3 linked regions of the Homo sapiens genome follow. The protein of the gene in region 1 interacts with the protein of each later gene in a biochemical or structural test. Each region holds a gene or a part of one and is shown in the gene's direction. Other genes may lie near its edges.

What was found. The genes of interacting proteins can lie anywhere in the genome.
Region 2: the proteins of UGT1A1 (region 1) and SEC23B interact in a test that uses a peptide from one of them, tested with the Homo sapiens proteins (one study listed by BioGRID).
Region 3: the proteins of UGT1A1 (region 1) and COPZ1 interact in a test that uses a peptide from one of them, tested with the Homo sapiens proteins (one study listed by BioGRID).

Annotation. Positions count from the first base shown.
Region 1 is NC_000002.12:233,770,233-233,773,800, forward strand, and holds the end of UGT1A1 (UDP-glucuronosyltransferase 1A1 precursor), read left to right. Parts: intron 1-2,029; coding exon 2,030-2,327; 3' UTR 2,328-3,068; downstream 3,069-3,568. Other genes in the region: UGT1A8 (UDP-glucuronosyltransferase 1A8 precursor), read left to right, coding at 2,030-2,327; UGT1A10 (UDP-glucuronosyltransferase 1A10 precursor), read left to right, coding at 2,030-2,327; UGT1A9 (UDP-glucuronosyltransferase 1A9 precursor), read left to right, coding at 2,030-2,327; UGT1A7 (UDP-glucuronosyltransferase 1A7 precursor), read left to right, coding at 2,030-2,327; UGT1A6 (UDP-glucuronosyltransferase 1A6 isoform 1 precursor), read left to right, coding at 2,030-2,327; UGT1A5 (UDP-glucuronosyltransferase 1A5 precursor), read left to right, coding at 2,030-2,327; UGT1A4 (UDP-glucuronosyltransferase 1A4 precursor), read left to right, coding at 2,030-2,327; UGT1A3 (UDP-glucuronosyltransferase 1A3 precursor), read left to right, coding at 2,030-2,327.
Region 2 is NC_000020.11:18,545,914-18,552,950, forward strand, and holds part of SEC23B (protein transport protein Sec23B), read left to right. Parts: intron 1-42; coding exon 43-120; intron 121-2,695; coding exon 2,696-2,857; intron 2,858-5,175; coding exon 5,176-5,262; intron 5,263-7,037. UniProt on the Homo sapiens protein: Component of the coat protein complex II (COPII) which promotes the formation of transport vesicles from the endoplasmic reticulum (ER).
Region 3 is NC_000012.12:54,328,105-54,335,141, forward strand, and holds part of COPZ1 (coatomer subunit zeta-1), read left to right. Parts: intron 1-7,037. UniProt on the Homo sapiens protein: The coatomer is a cytosolic protein complex that binds to dilysine motifs and reversibly associates with Golgi non-clathrin-coated vesicles, which further mediate biosynthetic protein transport from the ER, via the Golgi up to the trans Golgi network.

The DNA of each region.
Region 1 (3,568 bases):
CCATGATTCCAACACTCTGAGCTGGGGATAGTGCCTACACAAAATAAAAAGAAGTGGAAAATTTTCAAACATCAGTTTATGCTGACAACCAGGCCATAATAGGTGCTCAATTACTATTGAATGAATGAATGAAAGTTCTGGCCAGGTACGGTGGCTCATGCCTGTAGTCCCAACACTTTGGGAGGCCGAGGCAGGTGGATCACTTGAGGTTAGGAGTTCGAAACCAACCTGACCAACATGAAGAAACCTTATCTCTACCAAAAAAATATAAAAAAATTACCCAGGCATGGTGGTGTATGCCTGTAATCCCAGCTATTTGGGAGGCTGAGGCAGGAAAATCACTTGAACCTGAGAGGCGGAGGTTGCAGTGAGCTGAGATTGTGCCACTCCACTCCAGCCTGGGCGACAGAGTGAGACTCCGTCTTACTTAAAAAAAAAAAAAAGAAGGTTCCAAGAAAATTCATCTTAAGGTTTATGTAAAAGGAAGATGATATTTAACATGATTCATGGCCAAGTACTAATATTACATTATAATAATGTTTCCAAATAACATTATAGATATGTTTAAAGACAGTGTATTAGGCTGTTCTTGCATTGCTGTAAAGAAATACCCAAGACTGGGTAATTTATAAAGAAAAGAGGTTTCATTGGCTCGTGTTTCTGCAGGCTGTACAGGAAGCTTAGTGCTGACATCACTTGGCTGCCGGGGGAACCTCAGGGAGCTTTTACTCATGGCAGAAGGCAATGCGGGAGCTTGCATGTCACATGGCAAAAGCAGGAGCGAGAGAGAGTTGGGGGGGAAGGTGCCACACACTTTTTAATGACCGGCTCTCACAATAACTCATGAAAACTCACTATCAGGAAGACAGCACTAAAGCACAAGGGATCCGACCCCATGATCCAAACACCTCCCACCAGGCCCCATCTCCAGCACTGGGGATTACAATTCAACATGAGATCTGAGTGTGGACAAATATCCAAACTGTATCAGTCAACAGCGATCATAATTAGTCCTGAATAGGAGTGCCTTTTTTTTTCTTTCTTCTCCCTTTTCTTTTCTACTTCCTCCTCCTTTTCCCTCTCCTCTTCAATCTCCTCTTCATTCCTGTAGCACCAAGGGTTGAAGCACCTAACCCGTTTTGGATTGAGATGTTCTGATTGGGCAATGAACACTGTCCAGAATAAACAGAAATCCATTTTGCACTAAGTGGCTGCACAGACCCTGCCTCATGCTAAATCTAGCACCCAGATAGTTTAATGTTTCAATGACTGAATTACAAATATATCATCACCTTGGATTTGGCACTTACAAATGGCTGTTAATTTGGCCAGAGGTGGTTGTTTACAACTTCAAATAGGAGACTATTCATAATTTCTGACGTGACATTTTCCTTTCTTTATTTTACTGTATGAAAATATAATGAAATTTCTCACAAAATATCACTAAAAAGAAAAGAAGAAGAGTAGGAAGCAAGGTTAAAATATTTCTAAAATATAATTTTGGTCTTTCTTTTTCTCCCTTCCTTCCTCCGTCCCTCTCTCCTTTCCTCTCTCCCTCCCTCCCTCCCTCCCTTCCTCCTTTCCTTGCTTCCTTCCCTCCTTCTCTTCCTTCTTTTTCAAGAGATCAATAACATTTATTAAGAATAAGTTTCTTAATTATAACCTTTCAGGTGATAATAGTAACACAGCCTGGGCAACACAATAAGACCTTGTTTCTACAAAAAATTTAAAAATTGGCCAGACATAGTGGTGCATGACTAATTCCAGCTACTCTGGAGGCTGAGGCAGGAGGATGGCTTGAGCCCAGGAGTTGGAGGCTGCAGTTAGCCATGCTTGTGCCACTACACTCCAGCCCGGGCAACAGGGCAAGACTCTGTATCTAAAAACAACAACAACAACAATAATAGAAACAGGTTTCCTTTCCCAAGTTTGGAAAATCTGGTAGTCTTCTTAAGCAGCCATGAGCATAAAGAGAGGATTGTTCATACCACAGGTGTTCCAGGCATAACGAAACTGTCTTTGTGTTTAGTTACAAGGAGAACATCATGCGCCTCTCCAGCCTTCACAAGGACCGCCCGGTGGAGCCGCTGGACCTGGCCGTGTTCTGGGTGGAGTTTGTGATGAGGCACAAGGGCGCGCCACACCTGCGCCCCGCAGCCCACGACCTCACCTGGTACCAGTACCATTCCTTGGACGTGATTGGTTTCCTCTTGGCCGTCGTGCTGACAGTGGCCTTCATCACCTTTAAATGTTGTGCTTATGGCTACCGGAAATGCTTGGGGAAAAAAGGGCGAGTTAAGAAAGCCCACAAATCCAAGACCCATTGAGAAGTGGGTGGGAAATAAGGTAAAATTTTGAACCATTCCCTAGTCATTTCCAAACTTGAAAACAGAATCAGTGTTAAATTCATTTTATTCTTATTAAGGAAATACTTTGCATAAATTAATCAGCCCCAGAGTGCTTTAAAAAATTCTCTTAAATAAAAATAATAGACTCGCTAGTCAGTAAAGATATTTGAATATGTATCGTGCCCCCTCTGGTGTCTTTGATCAGGATGACATGTGCCATTTTTCAGAGGACGTGCAGACAGGCTGGCATTCTAGATTACTTTTCTTACTCTGAAACATGGCCTGTTTGGGAGTGCGGGATTCAAAGGTGGTCCCACGGCTGCCCCTACTGCAAATGGCAGTTTTAATCTTATCTTTTGGCTTCTGCAGATGGTTGCAATTGATCCTTAACCAATAATGGTCAGTCCTCATCTCTGTCGTGCTTCATAGGTGCCACCTTGTGTGTTTAAAGAAGGGAAGCTTTGTACCTTTAGAGTGTAGGTGAAATGAATGAATGGCTTGGAGTGCACTGAGAACAGCATATGATTTCTTGCTTTGGGGAAAAAGAATGATGCTATGAAATTGGTGGGTGGTGTATTTGAGAAGATAATCATTGCTTATGTCAAATGGAGCTGAATTTGATAAAAACCCAAAATACAGCTATGAAGTGCTGGGCAAGTTTACTTTTTTTCTGATGTTTCCTACAACTAAAAATAAATTAATAAATTTATATAAATTCTATTTAAGTGTTTTCACTGGTGTCGCATTTATTTCTTGTTAAGTTGCATTTTCTAATTACAAAAGTAATGCATGATTATGACAGAAAGTTTGGAAAATATAGAGGTTCACACACACACGCCTTCATTGCGTGTGCATGCATAAATGCATGAGAAAAGAAAAATAACCAGTAATCACATCGCCCAGAAATAACCCCAGTTACAATTGTGGCAAATACACATACTTATAAATATTGCAGATATATTAAGTATACCTAGTATTTGCTAACACTCTTTCTTCTACTCTGTCATGAAGATTCTCCCAAGGTGTTTTTGTATAATATTTAATTCATTTTCAGTGGCCAAGCAGTATTCTACTTCATGGATATACCAGGATTTATTTAACCATAACTTCTGGTTGGATTCACTCTTATTATTTTGTTTAATTAAAAAAAAAAGACCTCGGCTGGGCACAGTGGCTCATGCCTGTAATCCCAGCACTTTGGGAGGCCGAGGTGGGTGGAT
Region 2 (7,037 bases), on another chromosome or scaffold:
TTTGTGTGTGTTTGTTTGTTTTTTGGTATTTTCTTTCCATAGTGTCAAAAGTTTGGACAGTATAACAAAGAAGACCCCACTTCTTTTAGGTTATCAGATTCCTTTTCTCTATATCCTCAGGTAAGTAATGTATGTTTCTAAAATAACTACAGAGCAATAAATTTTGATAGAAATTAACTTTATTCTTAGGGTAAAGTGAAGACTTTTTAATGTGTTGAGACTCAGTCTGTAGGTGACAGAGATTGTTCAACCCAAGTCGAATATGTGTCTAGGCAAGACAGCACCCTACGCCCTACAGAAGATAGAGATGACATGCAGAGGGGAGAAAACTCATGCATACATTTTCATGAACAGGCAAAATAGGATCATTGATATAAGGCCGTAAAAAATATCTCTCATGTGTAGAAGTTCTGGGGAAACAGCTACCTCAGCAACAAACCAAGAAAATGAGCACACATGGAGATGAAGATAACAAAACAAAACCACAGTTAGTACAACAAATATTTAATAATATGTCTGTGGTTATTATGTGCATCATAACCAGGAGTGAGCAATAAGCAGCTCCTGAAAGTAACTGCACTCTGCATGAACCAAGCCTTTGGAAGCCATTGGACAAGAGAGAGGAGCAGGAGAAGTAGATGAATTTCCGTCTCCATTGTAACTTAGGAAATAGAGCACAATTCATGGGTGTCTATAAGGATTACAGGAGCTGAGGCCAACTGAGTATTAAATATTTAGCACAATGCCAGTAACCTGTTCAGCACTAAATGTGACCTAGCTCCATAGCAGGTGCCTGGGACTCTGAGGTGTCCATGTGCCAGAGGTTAAAGCTGTGTGGTGTTGTGAGAAGAGCCCTGGACCGGCCAGAGTCAGGTTGAGGTTCCAGTGCTGGCTCCGCAGGGGCTGACCTTAGAGGAGGTTCCAAAGCCCCGTAGAGTTTGGTTTCCCACCTCTAGCAGTGGGGAGTTGGTCTGGTGAAGTGGTTTGCAGTTTTTTTTTTTTTTTTTTTTTTTTTTAAAGCCATGGAATCCTTTCTTTGAGAGGAGCTGCCCTTAAAAGCCAGCACATAAAGCAGACAGAGTTGGTGCTTCTCTGGTTGTGCCTGTGTACCACCCCCACACTGGGTCCCACCAGAGCCCTCATCCCTGGGCCCCTGAGGACTTGATGAAGACTCTAAGAGCACAGCTTGAAAACCAGATGAAATGCTTTCTCAGATTCCTTCTGTCAAGGCATTCTAGGAAAGAGGCCAACAGCCCAGTCTCTAGAGCCAGGCGGCCAGGTGTAGAGTCCAGCTGTGACACTCAGTAGTGGGGTGACCTTGGACAAGTTGCTCGCCCCTCTGTGCCTCAGTTTCCTCACCTGTAAACTAGGGATGGTAAGAGAACTTACCTCATGGGCTTATTGGAAGGATTAAATAGTTCTTGTCAAGTGCTTTGTGACTTGCATGTAGGATGTATTAGATGTCAGCCTTGATTATTATTTAGGAACCTATGATTGAATATTTGGAGTCTCAGGAAGCTTTACACTTCACAAGGCAGCTCATTTTCGTGTTCTGGCAACTCTTTAATGTGAGCTGAAAGTCTGCCCCCACCCCTTCTTCTCATCCTCGAGGGCGAGAACCTATGGTTGCAGTGTCATCCCTTGTCCCTTTCTCCCCTGCACCAACACTTCACCATCCCAGCTTGTGTCCTGAGCTGTCATCTGCTGTTCCTGTGCCTGGAATCCCCTTCCCCCTGGCCCTGTGGCCTCCTCAGCCACGTCTCTCAGGGTGCACTGTCAGTCCCCGGAGCTCTAGGAAGTCTCCTCCTGGCCCTCCACCCCCACTCCCCACTGCTATCCTGTACTCTGGCTCATAACTCGTAGCCCGAGTGTGCCTTTCTCACTGGGCCTGACTTCTGAGAGCAGATATTCTGTCTCCACTGCCTGGCACAGTGACTCTGGAAATAAACATTTCTTTGGCTTTCCTCTTAACTGTGGAAGCTTTGACATACCCAGAGGCCCTTTTCTTAAAAAAATTTTGTATTTTTTTAAAAATTTTTAATTTTTAATTTTTTTGAGACGGAGTTTTGCTCTTGTTGCCCAGGCTGGAGTGCAATGGCCTGATCTCAGCTCACCGCAACCTCCCCCTACTGGGTTCAAGTGATTTTCCTGCCTCAGCCTCCTGAGTAGCTGGGATTACAGGCGCCCACCACCACACCCGGGTAATTTTGGATTTTTAGTAGAGACGGGGTTTCTCCATGTTGGTCAGGCTGGTCTTGAACTCCCGACCTCAGGTGATCCGCCCGCCTCGGCCTCCCAAAGTGCTGGGATTACAGGCGTGAGCCACCACGCCTGGCCAAAGGCCCTTTAAAAAAAAAAATTAATTTTTAATGTGGTAAAACACACATAACAAAATTTACCATCTTAACCATTTTTAAGCATACCGTTGAGTAGTGTTACGTGTATTCCCATTATTGAGCAACTGATGTCTAGAATTTTTCACTTTGCAGAGCTGAAACTCTGTGCTCATTAAGCAACAACTCTCAGTTTTCCTCTTTCCCTAGCCCCTGGTGCCCCCTTATGCTTTCTGTTCTGTGAAACCAGAGAGCCCTTTTCTGGGTTCTCCTATTTCAGAGCCCTGAGGTAGATCTACTCTGTGGGTGTCTAAGAAGGTTACAATTATATGCATTTCTCTTTCCGTTCTTTGTGAATGCAGTTTATGTTCCATCTGAGAAGATCTCCATTTCTTCAAGTGTTTAACAACAGTCCTGATGAGTCGTCATATTACAGACATCATTTTGCCCGGCAGGACCTGACCCAGTCCCTCATCATGATCCAGCCCATTCTCTACTCTTACTCCTTTCATGGGCCACCAGAGGTGAGGCTCTACCCAAATGCTTTCCTGAGGATTGGAATCACCTAACATATATTCTTTTTTAAGCAAATTTACTTAGCAGAACTGTAAAAAAGAAGTAAAATTTGGAGTTTTTATAGTAATTTAACATTATTTCTATTAAAAAATACCTTTAGGAAAATGTCAAAGGACATATAAAGCTATTATTTGTGAAAGGCAGGAATAAATGTAAAAAACTCTAGGAAATAACTTGGATGCTTTCTTTTTCCTTGTGCTTGTATACTTACATCCAACAATTCCATGTCTTGTATCTGAAGGAAAGACTCCTAGATACAGAGTAGACTTTGTGCCAAAAAAAAAAATAGTAAAGGAACTACTATAATAGAGGATCAAATAACAATCCGAATGTTTAATATAGGAAAATAAATAAGTAACCTGAGAAATGCAGTTGACCCTCAGTATTCATGGAAGATTGGTTCCAGGACCTCCCTCAGATACCAGAATTCTTAGATACTCAAGTTACTAATATAAAATTACATAATATTTGCATGTAACCTTGGCACATCCTCCTATATACTTTAAATCATCTCTAGATTAGTTATAATACCTAATATAATGTAAGTACCATGTAAATAATTGTCATACTGTATGGTTTAGGGAATAATGACAAGAAAACAAGTCTGTACATGTACAGTACAGATGCATATTTTTTTCAAATATTTTCAGTCCAAGATTGGTTGAATTTATAGATGTGGAACCCACCGATACGGAGGGCCAACAGTATTCACAAAAAGTATGTAACATAATAAAATAGATAAGTCCTTATGTAAAAATGTTACATGAAAAAAAGTCAAAATAGAAACGTTTCTAAATATTCCCTGCAAAAATAAAGAACTATATGGAAAAAAACAAAATATCAATATTTGTTGTACTTGGGTACACATTTAAAAATTTTCTTTATCGAGTACCACTTACTTTTATTATTGAAATAATTACTAAAATAGCAGGGGGATCACATGACATCAGGAGTTTGAGACCAGCCTGGCCAATGTGGCGAAACCCCATCTCTACTAAACATACAAAAATTAGCTTGGAATGGCGCCAATAATCCCAGCTACTTGGGAGGCTGAGGCTGGAGAATCACTTGAACCCCGGAGGCGGAGGCTGCAGTGAGTTGAGATCGCGCCACTGCATTCCAGCCTGGGCAACAGAGCAAGACTCCCTCTCAAAAAATAAAAATAAAAAAGAAATAATTACATATATAAAAATTATATGTGTATATGTAAATATAATAAATTATATATGTATATATAAGAACTATGTATATAAATATATATGTATATGATTATATATGTATATATAAATATAAATTATATACTTATATAATATAAAATATTACTTACAAATAAATAATAAACGTATTTTTTTTTGAGATGGGGTGTCTGTCACCCAGGTTGGAGTACAGTTGTGCGATCTTGGCTCACTGCAACCTCCGCCTTCCAGGTTCAGGTGATCCTCCCACTTCAGCCTCCTGAATAGCTGGGACCACAGGCACGTGCCACTACAGCCCGGCTAATTTTTTGTGTTTTTGGTAGAGATGGGGTTTTGCCATGTTGCCCAGGCTGGCTTTGAACTCCTGGGTTCAAGTGATCTGCCTGCCTTGGCCTCCCAAAGTTCTAGGTTTACAGGCATGAGCCACTACGCCCAGCCATAATTTATATTTTGTAGTAAACTTTAAAAACTTGTATTAAATGCTGCTTTTCATATAGGTATCCGTATTCTGTCTCATCTACAGAGAATGTCTGTAGAGATTGCTAAAATACATACAAAACTGAGAATATTCAGAATTATTTTTCGTTCCAAGATCAAAAGATATCATTAAGCCTGGACAACATAGTGTGAGACCCTGTCTTTACAAAAAATAAAAAATTAGTTGGGCGTGGTGGCATGCACCTGTAGCCTCAGCTACTCAGGAGGCTGAGGTGGGAGGGTCACTTGAGCCCAGGAGGTCGAAGCTGCAGTGAGCCAGGGTCACATCACTTTACTCCAGGCTGGGTAACAGAGCAACACCCTGACTCTTAAAAAAAAAAAAGGTATCATTAATCTCCGTTCTCAATTGATGAGGAATTATTTGGAGCCTATTTTTCCTACAAAGTTGAGAATGAGTCAGAAGCAGAAAGTGGAAGTATGTCAGGAAGAAAAGGGGTGACTTACTGTGCTGGGCACCATTTGTAAATAGCCTTTGCTGTGGATACCAGGCATGGGATCAGGGTCGGGTGGAAGTGGTTGCTGTGTGGGGAGCAGGGAAGACCAATGCCATCTTTCTCTCTCTTTTTCTTCAGCCAGTACTCTTGGATAGCAGCAGCATTCTAGCTGACAGAATTTTGCTGATGGATACTTTCTTTCAAATTGTCATTTATCTTGGTGAGGTAAGATGATATTATTAATTAATTAATTTCTTTTTGTTTTTAAATTGGAGAAAAGGCATACACATTTAATGTGCACACAAGGAGAATTATTGTCCTTAACTATGGTTTTTGTTTTCTTCTCTTATTTATTAAGTTAGGTTTTTAATGACATTTGTAACCACAGTTTGGGCTTAGAAAGCACCATGGCTTTTATTCTAGTAAATCCCTGGAGTATTTGTATATTTATTAATTTTAATCATATTTGCTGTTAAGTATGGGCCAGGTGCAGTGGCTTATACCTGTAATCCCAGCACTTTGGGATGCTGAGGTGGGCAGATCACCTGAGGTCAGGAGTTCAAAACCAGCCTGACCAACATGGCAAAACCCCATCTCTACTAAAAATACAAAAGTTAGCCAGGCGTGGTGGCACACACCTGTAGTCCCATCTACTTGGGAGGCTGAGATGGGAGAATCACTTAAACCCGGGAGGTTGAGGTTGTAGTGAGCTGAGATCACACCACTGCATTCCAGCCTGGTCAACAGAGTGAAACTCCATCTCAAAAAATAAATAATAATAATAATAATATATGCTGTAAAAAAATCTCAGGTGGTTATTTTAAATCACTGTAAATTATTACCTTCGAAGTTAGGCAAAACTAGTTTTTTCTCCTCAGTAAATATTTTATACATACTGCTGTTCTTTCAGAGTTATATACATACTGCTGTTCTTTCAGAGTTAGTGTTTAGAGCTAAGGTTGTACTTTGATGAAATAACATGGCCCAGGGAACTTTACGCTGTGTCTGTGGATCCCTAGGATGGCTGTGGATAGCTTTCAGTCCATTTCTTTCTCAGTGGGGTTCATGCCCTGAGAAAGGGAATGGCTCCTCTGAATTATTTGCATCTTTATGGCAAAAAATCCTTTAATGAAGATGATGGTGATATTTATATTCAGTGATGCTTTTTCTTCTATTGTATGATCTCTACCTTCTTAAATTGGTTATTGATTTGGTTTCCTAATGGCCAACCATTAGAAATGATTTCTGATGTCGTGAAAAGATATAAATTGTGTTTCAGGATTCCTTCAGTAACTTAGGAAGTGTTAGTTTTCTAATACTCCTAAGTATTTTATAACTTTAAACTTTTTTCAGCATGTTAACACCCAGTCTGCTAGCCACTTGCACGCAAGTGCTAGGCTGTCAGTAATAGTCCTAGACTGAGAGCCGGATGACCAGCTGCTCTTCCCACTGGAACCTTTGGTATCAGTACAGTTGGCCCTCTGTATCCACGGGTTCCACCTCTGCAGATTCAATCAACTGCAGGTTAAAAATAATTTTGAAATAATAATAAAAAATAATACAAATAAAATATACAGCACAGGCCGGGTGTGGTAGTTCATGCCTGTAATCCCAGCACGTTGGGAGGCCGAGGTGGGCGGATCATCTGAGGTCAGGAGTTCAAGACCAGTCTGGCCAACATAGCGAAACCCTGTCTCTACTAAAAATACAAAAATTAGCTGGGCATGGTGGCAGACACCTGTAATCCCAGCTGCTCGGGAGGCTGAGGCAGGAGAATCGCTTGAACTCAGGAAGTGGAGGTTTCAGTGAGCTAAGATCGAGCCAGTGCACTCCAGCCTGGACGACAGAGTGAGACTCTGTCTCAAAAAACAAAACCAAAAAAACAGCACAAGAACGATTTATATAGTTTCTACATTGTATTAGATATTATAAGTAATCTAAAGATGATTTAAAGTGTATGGGAAGATGTACATCGGTTATATGAAATACTATGCCATTTT
Region 3 (7,037 bases), on another chromosome or scaffold:
TCTACTAAAAATACAAAAAAAAATAGCTGGGCGTGGTGGCACGAGCCTATAGTCCCAACTACTCAGGAGGCTGAGGCAGGAGAATCACTTGAGCCAGGGAGGCAGAGGTTGCAGTGAGCCGAGATCGCGCCACTGCACTCCAGCCCAGGCGACAGTGTTAGACTCCATCTCAAAAAAAAAAAAAAGGCCGGGCACGGTGGCTCACGCCTGTAAATCCAGCACTTTGGGAGGCCGAGGTGGGCGGATCACGAGGTCAGGAGTTGGAGACCAGCCTGACCAACATGGTGAAACCCGGTCTCTGCTAAAAATACAAAACTTAGCTGGGCGTGGCCACGCCTGTAATCCCAGCTACTCAGGAAGCTGAGGCAAGAGAATCACTTGAACCTGGGAGGCAGAGGTCGCGGTGAGCCGAGATGCGCCACTGCACTCCAGCCTGGGTGACAGAGCAAGGCTCTGTCTCAGAAAAGTTAAAGAAAAAGAAAGTCTCTCTGTCACATTTCTCTTCCCTTAGTTCTCTGTCTCTGCTTCTTCAGTGAAGTCTGTTTCAGCCTGCTTCTTCCTTATTCTTTTGCTTTAATCTATGCCTAATAGGCTGCATTCACAGATCCCTGCTAACTTGATCAGGTAACCCTGGACTTTGCTTTTAAAACCACACTGGTTCTTTGTTATGGGAAACCTATGTAATGCGGTTAGGGACAATCTGATCAAAGCATATTCTTCTGTCCTTAACTCTACAAGGTACATACATAGCTGCAGGATGTCGAGAAAAAGGGACAGGTAAGCTACAGGGGGTCAAGAAGAACTGTTGATCAAAGTTTGCATTGATTGTGGAATTTCTAAATAACAGTAAGTTCCCTTCTTTTAGGTACTTTACAGTGGGTCACATGGTCACATTTCTTTCTTGAATTAAGTAATCCAGCTCTAGCTTTCAAGCAGATTTGTCTAATCTCTCTCAGGTCTCCTTAGGCTCTAAGGAAAGAGACCCTTTCATCTCTTTTAGTTCCCAATGCTTAATAATAGTGATCTCAGCCTGCATCTTTGGACTTGGCTTCTTCTCTCTTGCTGTATCTGCTGGTTCTCGCTTTTTGAGTTGTGAATGAAGAGGATCTCTGCAGATCACCATTCTCCATTAATAACCTGTGGAATCTTAAAGATAAGGATTTCCCCTTCCTCCTTCCTGCTTTACTTTTTTTCTTTAAAGCTGAATTACTCGGGCCGGGCTCGGTGGCTCACACCTGTAATCCTGAGGTGAGTGGATCACCTGAGGTCAGGAGTTCAAGACCAGCCTGACCAACATGGTGAAACCCGTCTCTGCTAAAAATACAAAAATTAGCTGGGCGTGGTGGCATGCGCTTGTAATCCCCAGCTACACGGGAGACTGAGGCAGGAGAATCGCTTGAACCTGGGAGGCGGAGGTTGCAGTGAGCCGAGGGCCATTGCACTCCAGCCTGGGCAAAAAGTGAAACTCTGTCTTAAAAAACAAACAAAACTGAATTCTGTATCGGTTTAGATCTTTAAATCTTTGTTCATAGGTTTTATTTTTCCTAATCCTCTCTGGATTCACTTTCAGAGTGCTTCTCCAGTGCTTTACAGACTAGACTTCTAATTCTGTACTTTGTCTTACCTTAATATTTTAAAACCATAACCAAATCCTAAATTCTAAGCCTCATTAAAAAATCAGGCCATCCAAAGTGCACAAGGATATGAGTATGTATGGAGGAGGAAACTATGCAGAATATGTCAATGACTTTAAAGGTTGATGTTGCTCCTTGGCCTTTGCTTCCTGAATCATCTTAATGGGGCTTTTGTTAAATTCCTTTGGCCCTAACAGTAGAGGTACTTGGCCTAAATGCCCCCCTCCCCCTGCTCTGGGCAAAGGTATCAATTACATTAAGCCCCTAAAGCACTCCCATCTCGTTCCTGGCAGTCCCCTGTGCCCCTCTCCCAGCTGCGTCCTTGCTGGTGCCTGGCCCCCTCCATTTTGTTAGGAGAAGCAATCTCCTCATTCCTGCGCTGTGGAGATATATTTCTCAGCTAGGGCGCGAGCAGTGCCAGCACTGCCCCCGGTGAGGTCCCTGGCAGCAATAAAAATTTTTATTGTGATTATGTTGGTGTCGGGGTGTCCATCTGGGTTATTGCACACCTAGTTTAATTGATTGAAGTTTAATTTATTGACACTTCAAATTAAATGATCAGAATAAACTGTGCTGTTACTCTGGCCAGCTTGTTTTAATGGTTGATTGCTGGAAGCAGACCTCGGCTTGAACTAAAACCCCCAAAGAGCAATTGACGCTGCTTCTAACTCTCCCCATGTCTTGCCCTCCAAGAAGACCTTGTTATAGATTTCCGACGTATTTATATATATTTTTTCCCTCTTCTTCACAGTGGTGGGAAAGAGTTGGTCCCTGGCAAGGTATAAATTATATCAAAGATCTAGGGGAGCTGTCACATGGTCAGAAGAGGAGGAGGGGGCCTCCATGTGAGGAAAACCAGACCCTTGAGAAGCCAGGTCTGCCTTGGGAGGCAGAGGATGAGTGCAATTATCCAGGTATTTGACGGAGCCTAGTGGCAGGTTTAGGGTCTTTTTTATCTAGATACTTGCTGCTGTTTCTTACTTTACTCCATTGACATGGCTTGATTAGAGTCTGGATGTTGACAAGAAAACAGGTTGTGGAAAGGGAAACTAGAGGAGCAAATCAGATGGAGCAGGGATAAAGAATCAGTACCTATGTACCCACTTGTGCTGGAGTAATTAGGAAGAGGAAAGGCAGAGTGCCCAGGGGACAGCTGATGAAGATGGATTCAGAGAATGAGTCCATGCACTTGTAAGATGCTTGTGCTGGCAAGGGCCCTCTCACATTCTGTCCCTCCTGTTTTTGGGCAGAATAGGTTTCCTTACATCAGATTATTAGGGGGATCTCTCCTGGCCTTACATTCCCTAGCCTGTGTCACCTCTTCTGGTGTTTGACCACACCCATCTCTTCAGGAAGTCCTTCCTGTTGTGTAATCTAAGTTATATATGCTGCAGATGAAGCCTGCTTTTTTATTTGGCTTTTTATTTTCACACTCTTTTTTTTTTTTTTTTTTTTTTTTGAGACAGAGTCTTGCTCTTGTTGCCCAGGCTAGAGTGCAATGGCATGATCTTGGCTCACCGCAACCTTTGCCTTCCAGGTTCAAGCGATTCTCCTTCCTCCGCCTCCCGAGTAGTTGGGATTACAGGCCCCCACCACCATGCCTGGCTAATTTTTGTATTTTTAGTAGAGACGGGGTTTCGCCATGTTGGCCAAGCTGGCCTCGAACTCCTGACCTTGTGATCCACATGCCTTGGCCTCCCAAAGTGCTGGGATTACAGGTGTGAGCCACTGCGCCCGGCCTATTTTCTCACTCTCAATGCAGATATCCCATCCATAGCCAATTGCCCTGGATAGCTCGGTCAACTAATTTTCTGCAACTCCTTTTCTGTTGTGTGGTTTTAGAGGGAGACTAAAACCAGAGGAGAATAGAGCAATTCTGCCTCGGGGTTGATTTGGGGGCATAAATAGACTGAAAGATAACACAGAGTCTGTCAATTCAGTCTCTCAGAGACTAGCTTTTTGTTTTCAGGAGCAAAAGCAGGGAGATGTGGGGGGGAGTAAAGGGATAAATCATGATACAAATCGTGACCCAGGACTCATCAGGAATGGATCTAGCCCCTTTTGATTTTTTTCCTTTGCTGAGTGTTATTTAAGTGAGGGCTCCTGGATTACCAAACTGAGAAGGCAGAATGTTCTAATGGTGCTCTCAGGCCTCAGGTCTGGAGTATAGTCTGATTTCTCCTTATTCAGTTCATCTCTCTTCCCAGCAGTACTGCTTTGTCCCTCATTTCTGTGATTCTTTCACTTCCATGATAGTTGAAGAATTAGGGACTATGTGACCCCTGGGTAAAAAATCCTCCAGCAAGGCCGGGCGCGGTGGCTCACGCCTGTAATCCAGCACTTTGGGAGGCCGAGGCGGGCGGATCACGAGGTCAGGAGTTTGAGACCAGCCTGACCAACATGGTGAAACCCGTCTCTACCAAAAATACAAAAATTAGCCGGTCATGGTGTCACGCGCCTGTAATCCCAGCTACTCAGGAGGCTGAGGCAGGAGAATGGCGTGAACCCGGGAGGCGGAGGTTGCAGTGAGCCACTGCACTCCAGCTTGGGCGACAGAGTGAGACTCCGTCTCAAAAAAAAAAAATTTTCCAACAGACAGGCTTTCTGAGTTTTGAGAAAGGTCCTGAGACTTTGCATTCCTAAAAAGCTTAGGGTTTGGTTGTCTTTGTCCTGCCCATTTCACAGTCATCAAATTCAGCCATTGAAAGCTGGAGGTGGCTGGGCATGGTAGCTCACGCGTGTAATCCCAGCACTTTGGGAGGCTGAGGCAGGCGGATCACCTGAGGTCAGGAGTTCGAGACCAGCCTTACCAACATGGCAAAGCCCTGTCTACTAAAAACACAAAATTAGCCAGGTGTGGTGGTGGGTGCCTGTAATGCCAGCTATTTGAGAGGCTGAGGCAGGAGAATCGCTTGAACCTGGGAGGTGGAGGTTGCAGTGAGCTGAGATTGCACCATTGCACTCCAGCCTGGGCAACAAGAATGAAACTCAGTCTTAAAAAAAAAAAGGGAAAAAAAAAAAGAAAGCTGGAGGGAGCGTGGTTGCTGACCTTTATTCCCCCTGCTGGCTGTTAGTTTTCTCAATCATATTTATTAATTTATGAAGGCCACACACACATTTATTGAATTTATCCAGCATTACTGGATGCCAGGTAGAGTAGAGGGGGTGGTTTACAAAAGTATCACTCATTTCCCCTCTTTTTCCTGCCCCCTCCACACCATCTTATTATCTCCAGAGAGAATCTCATTTAATTCTAAACTCGGCTCTGTGAACTCTTTGAAATCATAAAAAAATTATTTTTATTTATATATATATTTTTTGAGACAGAGTCTTGCTCTGTCATCCAGGCTGGAGTGCAGTGGTGCGATGATCTTGGCTCACTGCAATCTCCATCTCCGGGGTTTAAGCAATTCTCATGCCTCAGCCTCCTGAATAGCTGGGATTACAGGCATGCACCACCATGCCCAGCTAATTTTTTTGTATTTTTAGTAGAGACAGGGTTTCGCCATGTTGCCCAGGCTGGCCTCAAACTCCTGAGCTCAAGCTATTTGTCCCCACATTGGCCTCCCAAAGTGCTGGTATTACAGGTAGGAACCAGCATGCCTAGCCATGAAATCATAAAAAAATTTGTGAATGTATTTTGCTGGGAATAAGGTCCATAGATGTAATTGGTTTATCAAAGGGGTCTGCTGTAACTCAAAAAAGGCATTAACCTTAACTGATCTAGGTCAAGCCTCTCATTTCTCTGATGAAGAAGCTGAATCTCAGAGAAAGGGAAAATTTGAGTTAATGGCTGATCCCCATTATAGTACAAGTATTGTAGCCAGGCATGGTGGTGCATGCCTGTAGTCCTAGCTATTTGGAAGGCTGAGGCAGGACTCCTTGAGCCCAGGAGTTCAGGTCCAGCCTGGGCAACATAGCAAGACCCTGTCTCTATTTAAGAGATGGATTGTAGGAGTTTAGAGACATTTTCTCCTGTAATATCAAAACTCTTGTTGACTGTGCTTTACATGTTTTGGGTCTGTGTCAGATAGGAAGATTGTAGGTGTCTCTTCCTGCCGTCAGTTCTTCCCGAGTCATGTGTTGAGTTTTTTCTTTATAACCAATATTTGGTCTCATGTCAGCTGGGTAGTGTTCTGTGGTACCAGTGGCTCCCACTCTTTCCTGAGCTGTGCTTTTTGAATCTAATCTTGTGTGTATACAGAAATAATTAGCAGGGTGTGGTGGCATGTACCTGTAGTCAGCTACTTGGGAGGCTGAACGGGGAGGATCGCTTGAGCCTGGGAGGTTGAGGCTGCAGTGAGCTGTGATGGCACCACTGCACTCCAGCCTGGGTGACAAGAAATAATAATAATATTAATAAATCTGATATAGGCTGGGCGTGGTGGCTCATGCCTGTAATCCTAGCACTTTGGGAGGTCAAGGTGGGCAGATCACCTGAGGTCAGGAGTTCGAGACCAGCTTGGCCAACATGGCGAAACCCCGTCTCTACAAAAAACACAAAAATAAGCCAGGCTACAAAAAACACAAAAATAAGCCGGGCGTGGTGGGAAGCGCCTGTAATCCCAGCTGCCTGAGAGGCTGAGGCAGGAGAATTGCTGGAACCCGAGAGGCAGAGGCTGCAGTGAGCCAAGATCACGCCACTGCACTTCAGCCTGGGCAACAGAGCAACACTGTCTCAAAAAAAAAAATCTGATATGTAAAAACTGCTCTTCCCTGTCAAAGACTTTAGCTAATTCTTCTTTTCTTTTCATCTGAAGTCTATCGGATTGTGGCTGGCAAATTGGAGCCCTTAACCCCAGAGGAGCTTTTAATTTTAAAAAAGTTGGCACAGGCTGGGCACGGTGGCTCATGCCTGTAATCCCAGCACTTTGGGAGGATGAGGCGGGTGGATCATGAGGTCAGGATATCTAGACCATCCTGGCTAACACGGTGAAACCCCGTCTCTACTAAAAAAAATACAAAAGAATTAGCTGGTCGTAGTGGTGGGTGCCTGTAGTCCCAGCCACTCGGGAGGCTGAGGCAGGAGAATGGCGTGAACCCGGGAGGCAGAGCTTGCAGCGAGCCGAGATCAGACCACTGCACTTCAGCCTGGGCGACAGGGTGAGACTCCGTCTCAAAAAAATAAAAAAATAAATAAAAGTTGGCACAGAGGCCAGGTGCAGTGGCTCACACCTGTAATATTAGCATGTTGGGAGGCCGAGACAGGCAGATTGCCTGAGTTCAGGAGTTCAGGACCAGCCTGGGCAAGATGGTGAAACTCCATCTCTACTAAAATAAAAAAAATCAGCTGGGCATGGTGGCAGTCACCTGTAATCCCAGCTACTGAGGAGGCTGAGACACGAGAATTGCTGGAACCCAGGAGGCGGAGGTTGCAGTGAGCCAAGATTGTGCCACTGCACC